Homo sapiens: one gene and its partner. The protein of the gene in region 1 purifies or fractionates together with the protein of each later gene. This does not show direct contact. Each region holds a gene or a part of one and is shown on either strand. Other genes may lie near its edges.

Evidence for each region. The genes of interacting proteins can lie anywhere in the genome.
Region 2: the proteins of AQP7 (region 1) and KRT6B purify together in Homo sapiens (pull-down; one study listed by IntAct). This does not show direct contact.

The regions. Positions count from the first base shown.
Region 1 is NC_000009.12:33,396,069-33,399,568, reverse strand, and holds part of AQP7 (aquaporin-7), read left to right. Parts: intron 1-3,500. UniProt on the Homo sapiens protein: Aquaglyceroporins form homotetrameric transmembrane channels, with each monomer independently mediating glycerol and water transport across the plasma membrane along their osmotic gradient. Could also be permeable to urea.
Region 2 is NC_000012.12:52,446,151-52,449,146, reverse strand, and holds the end of KRT6B (keratin, type II cytoskeletal 6B), read left to right. Parts: intron 1-179; coding exon 180-305; intron 306-1,148; coding exon 1,149-1,369; intron 1,370-1,573; coding exon 1,574-1,608; intron 1,609-1,721; coding exon 1,722-1,957; 3' UTR 1,958-2,496; downstream 2,497-2,996.

The sequences.
Region 1 (3,500 bases):
AGTGCAGTGGCATGATCTCGGCTCACTGCAACTTCTGCTTCTTGGGTTCAAGCGATTCTCATGTCTCAGCCCCTCCCCCCCCAGCTGGTATTACAGGTGCCTGCCACCATGCCCAGCTAATTTTTTTTTTATTATTAGTGGAAATGGGGTTCTGCCATGTTGGCCAGGCTGGTCTTGAACTCCTGACCTCAAGTGATCCACCTGCCTCGGCCTCCTAAAGTGTTGGGATTACAGGCATGAGTCACCATGCCTGGCCAACCAATGTTTGTTGAATTAAGAAATGTTGGTTAGCAGGTTGAATTGTTGGCTCGTGGTTAGTTGGATAGTTTATGGTTGGCTGGTTGATTAGATAATTAAATGAGTTAATAGCTGGTTAACAGGAGAATCAGTTAGTTGGTTTTTGATAGGTTAGTCAAAGGGTTAGTAAGCCACCAGGCGTGGTGGCTCATGCCTGAAATCCCTGCACCTTGGGAGGCTGAGGCGGGAGGATTGCTTGAACCCTGGGAAGTCTAGGCTTCAGTGAGCTGTGACTGTGCCACCACCGCACTTCAGCCTGGGCGACAGAGTGAGACCCTGTCTCAAAAAAAAAAAAAAAGGAAAAAGAAAAAGAAAAGAAACAGGCTTTTAGTGAGCTGTTAGCTATTTAGTTCCTTGGTTAGCAGATTACTTAGGGAATCTGGTTGGCTGCCAGTTTCTTGCTTTGTAGGCTGGCTTTCTTGGGCCCCTCTTCTTAGTCTGTACCCTCTCCTTGAGCTCTCTCATCTATGCCCATGGCTCAGATGACCATCTGTGATTTGCTGTCCTCCAAATGTGTCTGTAAGTGAGACCACATGACCAGCTGCCTCCTCACTGGCCATCCCACCCAAGTGTCTAGCGGGCTCCTCACACTCAACATGCCCAGAAAGGGCCTCCTTGTCCATTCTCCCACAGCTTCTCTGCTGCGCCCCACACTAGTCAGGACCTGCCCTAGCCAGGACCTGAGGGCATCGCTGAGCTGCCCCGCTCTCTTCCCTCTCTAACCAAACACCAAGCCTGTCAGCTTGACTGTGCTCTTTTGGCCATTGGCGCTGCCATCTCTGTGGCTCAGGCTGCCGCCACTTCTCCACCCATCTGTGGAGAAGCTGATGCTCACCCTGCCTCCACTCCACTTCCTCCATCCTGGCCTCCACAGGGGAGGCAGCTCTCCTGCTGAAACCCTCCACTTGGCCCATGGCCCTCTGGTAGAGTTCAGACTCCCTAATGTGGGCCATGAGGCCTTCTGCCACCTGGCCCTGGCCCCTCTCTGCCCATCTCATGCCACCTCCACTCCTCCGTGGCCAGCCCATTCCTGCACATTGGATACTGCCTTAGCTGCAGGCCTTTGCACATGCCAGTCCTACGCCCAGAGTGATCCCTGCCTCCCTGGAGGCTCCTTTACCCTCCAGCCTTCTTTTCTTGACCTAAATTTCCCTTTCTCTGGGAGCCTCCTACCCCCTCCTCTAGGCCATTCACTTCCTCCACATGCCCCACGGTGCCCACTCTTTCAGCTGGGGCAGTGCTCATCACACTGCATAGTAATTGCTCAATTGATTGCTTTTCTTCCCACGGGCTGGATCGTACCAGTGTCCTTTACTGCAGTGTCTGAACATTCTAGGCACAGTAGATTCAAGAAATCTTGAGTTCATTGGCTGGTTGGTGGTTATCTGTTGCTTACTGTGTCTTGCCAGCTGTGTGGTGATGAGGAAGGAGCCAGGCTTCCAGGATTCTCTTGGTGTTCTTGGCTTTCTGCTCTATCCACTTCTCTCTCCTCTTCTGTGGTTACCTCCAGCATGGGAGCTGGGGTTGGATGGGGGCCAGTGGAGGGTCACCTCGCCCTGCTAGGGAGAGCAGCAGCATTCCTCAGGGCTCCTAAATTCCCCTGACCTCACAGCAGCAAAAAGTAAGCAGAGGGAATGAGAGATGTCCAGGCATGGAATAAAACATCTTCCACTTTTCAGCTGAGACCCTCTGTTCATAGCTCACCCATCCCAGTCTTTGCTCTATTCCTTACCCCAGAGAAACAAAACCAGGGAGGAGTAGATGGAGGGGGATGCAGAGTTGCGCGGATAATCCACTGGCCCCCATCCAACTCCAGCTCCCATGCAGCATCGTATAGGGGTCTCATTATCCCATGAGCAGCCTCCTCAGCCCTGAAGAAGAGACCCTACCAATGCAAGCAGCAGCCCAAAGACAGTCCTGGGAAGGTACCATAGAGGCAGGGGAGAGGTAGACAGAGCAGGGAGCCAAGAACACCAAGGAAATCCTGGAAGCCTGGCTCCTTTCTCATCAGCACACGGCAGGCAACAACCAGCCAATGAACCAAAGATTTATTGAATCTACTATGCCTACTATGTTCAGGCACTGCAGTGAAGGAAACTGGTATGATCCCAGCCCTTAGGAAGAAAAACCGTTAATTAATTATTAATCAAGCTTTTTTTTTTTTTTTTTTTGAGACAGGGTGTCACTCTGTCACCCATGCTGGAGTGCAGTGGTGTGATCTCAGCTCACTGCAACCTCTGCCTTCTGAGCTCAGGCAATCCTCCCACCTCAGCCTCCCCATTAGCTGGGACCACAGGCGTACACCACAACACCTGACTAATTTTTGTATTTTTTTTTTTGTAGAGATGAGGTTTTGTCATACTGCCCAGGCTGGTCTTGAACTCCTGGGCTCAAGCGATCAGCTCGCCTCGGCAAGTGCTGGGATTACAGGCGTGAGACACTGTGCCTGGCCTAACTGAGCAATTACTATGCAGTGTGATGAGCATTGCCCCAGCTGAAAGAGTGGGCACCGTGGGGCATGTGGAAGAAGTGAATGGCCTAGAGGAGAGGGTAGGAGGCTCTCCCAGAGAAAGGGAAATTTAGGTCAAGAAAAGAAGGCTGGTGGGTAAAGGAGCCTCTGGGGAGGCAGGGGACCATTCTGGGCGTAGGACTGGCATGTGCAAAGGCCTGCAGCTAAGGCAGTACGTGATGTGCAAGGATGGGCTGGCCAGAGGAGTTGAGGGGCTGGTGTCAGCTTCCGGGCATGCAGACAGTGAGATAGCAGAGTGACTAAGGCCACACTTAGAGGTATCTGTATCCCTCTTCTTCCTCTTTTTTTTTTTTTTTTTTTTTTGAGATGGAGTCTCGCTCTTGTTGCCCAGGCTGGAGTGCAGTGGCAAGATCTCGGCTCACCACAACCTCCATCTCCCATGTTCAAGCGATTCTCCTGCCTCAGCCTCCAAAGTAGCTGGGATTACAGGCATGCGCCATCATGCCTGGCTAATTTTGTATTTTTTAGTAGAGATGGGGTTTCTCTATCTTGGTCAGGCTGGTCTCGAACTCCCGACCTCAGGTGATCTGCCCACCTTGGCCTACCAAAGTGCTGGGATTATAGGCGTGAGCCACCGGGCCCAGCCCCTCTTCTTCCTCTTTATCCTCCAGGCCCACCCCGCCACCTTCCCCAAACTCCAGTCCTATACCTCTCTCTATATGCAGATTTGGGC
Region 2 (2,996 bases), on another chromosome or scaffold:
GGATGGTCTGTGACTCCAGTGTTTAGTATCCACCCACCACATAACATCAACTTTTCCTCAAGTTTCTTGGGGAGAAGCCATTAGGTCCACTTCATGACATTCATGATACACAAGTGAAAGTCATCGCTCCCAGGTAAGAACCCGTAGACACTGTCTCTCTCTCCACCTCTGGGCTGCAGTACGAGGAGCTGCAGATCACAGCAGGCAGACATGGGGACGACCTGCGCAACACCAAGCAGGAGATTGCTGAGATCAACCGCATGATCCAGAGGCTGAGATCTGAGATCGACCACGTCAAGAAGCAGGTATGGTGAGGGGCAATGGAGGAGAAAAGCATCATTTTTTTTATTAGGTCATGAGGCAGTAGTCACCCATCATTTAGTAAAATTCTTTGGGAATTGATTGATAAGCAGAGAAGGAAAGACATGCAGTTCCTAGGCTCAGTGAGAACACTCTGGCTCAGAGACATGGATCACACCCAAGGATATGAAACAATCACCTGGGCAGAAGCACTCTCAGCTGGTCAAAGCTGTAAAAGTATAGTCTAGAGGCATTGGAAGGGCTTATGTAAGAAGACTGATTGACTTTGGAATTGCAAAGGACCAAGTTGGGCAAGATGTCAGGTCAGAAAGCATCAGTAACATTGCTGCAAATCTGCTCAAGGTTCACGGTGAAAAAGCAAGTGAAACCAGGGCTATGAGGAAGGAAAACGTGGCCCAAGCAGGTGAGAGGATGTGAGGCAGGAGGAAGGCAAGGTCACAACAGCCTCATGTGAAAACTCATCACCTCAGTTGACAACGTTTGCAAATTATTGTGGCATCCATGTAAGGTCATCAAAAATGGTTTTGGTTTTTTTGCTTTGGAGCCAACACTTAATGTCCTTGGTCTTGTGTCCACTGTGGCATCTTCCATTGGTCATCACCCACATCTTTAGGCAGTGGAGTTAACAGAAAGGGCACAGGATTTTATCATGTGACTCCAGACGTAAAAACTTTGAAGACAGTAAAAAGGCTAGACAGGAAGAGTCAGAGCTCATTTACCATCAGTTCTGGGTTCCTGGTGCCTTCTTCACTGGAAAAGAACCAGCCAGGTTTATTCTTCTCTGGAAGACCAGATGACAAGTTCTTTCTCTTCCTTTGCCCTCCTAGTGTGCCAACCTACAGGCCGCCATTGCTGATGCTGAGCAGCGTGGGGAGATGGCCCTCAAGGATGCTAAGAACAAGCTGGAAGGGCTGGAGGATGCCCTGCAGAAGGCCAAGCAGGACCTGGCCCGGCTGCTGAAGGAGTACCAGGAGCTGATGAACGTCAAGCTGGCCCTGGATGTGGAGATCGCCACCTACCGCAAGCTGCTGGAGGGCGAGGAGTGCAGGTGGGTAACTGACGCGACTTCCTCCAACAGCTGAGTCCATCTTCAAGGTTCTGGCACTGAGCACAACTTTAAGGTGCACTGCCCAAGGCCATAATTGCTCTTCTTGGGAGAAAACTAAAAGTTTTCCCATGGACTTTCCCACCCACTGAGGCTTCCCATGCTCGTCCAGGGAAGGTCTCACCCTCCCTGTGTTCCTCTCCACAGGCTGAATGGCGAAGGCGTTGGACAAGTCAACATCTGTAAGTACCTTTGTTTGCCTTCCTCCCCTGCCCTTGCACTCTCCTGACTGGGCTCAGGCCGGCAGGATGAACTCATTGTGGCTTCTTGTGTCCTTGTCCCCTCCCCACCACAGCTGTAGTGCAGTCCACCGTCTCCAGTGGCTATGGCGGTGCCAGCGGTGTCGGCAGTGGCTTAGGCCTGGGTGGAGGAAGCAGCTACTCCTATGGCAGTGGTCTTGGCGTTGGAGGCGGCTTTAGTTCCAGCAGCGGCAGAGCCACTGGGGGTGGCCTCAGCTCTGTTGGAGGCGGCAGTTCCACCATCAAGTACACCACCACCTCCTCCTCCAGCAGGAAGAGCTACAAGCACTGAAGTGCTGCCGCCAGCTCTCAGTCCCACAGCTCTCAGGCCCCTCTCTGGCAGCAGAGCCCTCTCCTCAGGTTGCTTGTCCTCCCCTGGCCTCCAGTCTCCCCTGCCCTCCCGGGTAGAGCTGGGATGCCCTCACTTTTCTTCTCATCAATACCTGTTCCACTGAGCTCCTGTTGCTTACCATCAAGTCAACAGTTATCAGCACTCAGACATGCGAATGTCCTTTTTAGTTCCCGTATTATTACAGGTATCTGAGTCTGCCATAATTCTGAGAAGAAAATGACCTATATCCCCATAAGAACTGAAACTCAGTCTAGGTCCAGCTGCAGATGAGGAGTCCTCTCTTTAATTGCTAACCATCCTGCCCATTATAGCTACACTCAGGAGTTCTCATCTGACAAGTCAGTTGTCCTGATCTTCTCTTGCAGTGTCCCTGAATGGCAAGTGATGTACCTTCTGATGCAGTCTGCATTCCTGCACTGCTTTCTCTGCTCTCTTTGCCTTCTTTTGTTCTGTTGAATAAAGCATATTGAGAATGTGAACATGTTGTGTTAGATTGTATTGCTGACCACTTCCTGGTTTAGAAACATTCGCACCCCACAAATGGTTTCTTATCTTTGGGGAACTGCTGCTCTCCCCACTGACCAGTCATCATGGAGGATGAGTCGGGAGCTCCCCCTCCACAGCCTACTCCATCAGTCAACATTATGTGATTCTGTCGGACACTCCGGTGGACAATCACCAACTACTCAGCCCTCACCACTTGGGAATTTTTCCACAAATGGAGTCTTTTATAAAGCATCAGAACAAAAAGGGAAGCTAATTCCTGGAATCTGGATCAGCATAATCTGATAACTAAGATTCATTTATATTTTTTATTTTTCAGCCCCATCATTTGGTGGCTTGACCCCACACTGATCTCTGAGACTCCCTCTCTCCCCGGCTCCCCACCACCAGGGAAATATTGCACTGACCCTGCAGATCAGAAACACTTGGTAAGAAGCAGGTGCTTGCCCTGACTCTATGATTATTAAGACTTTTG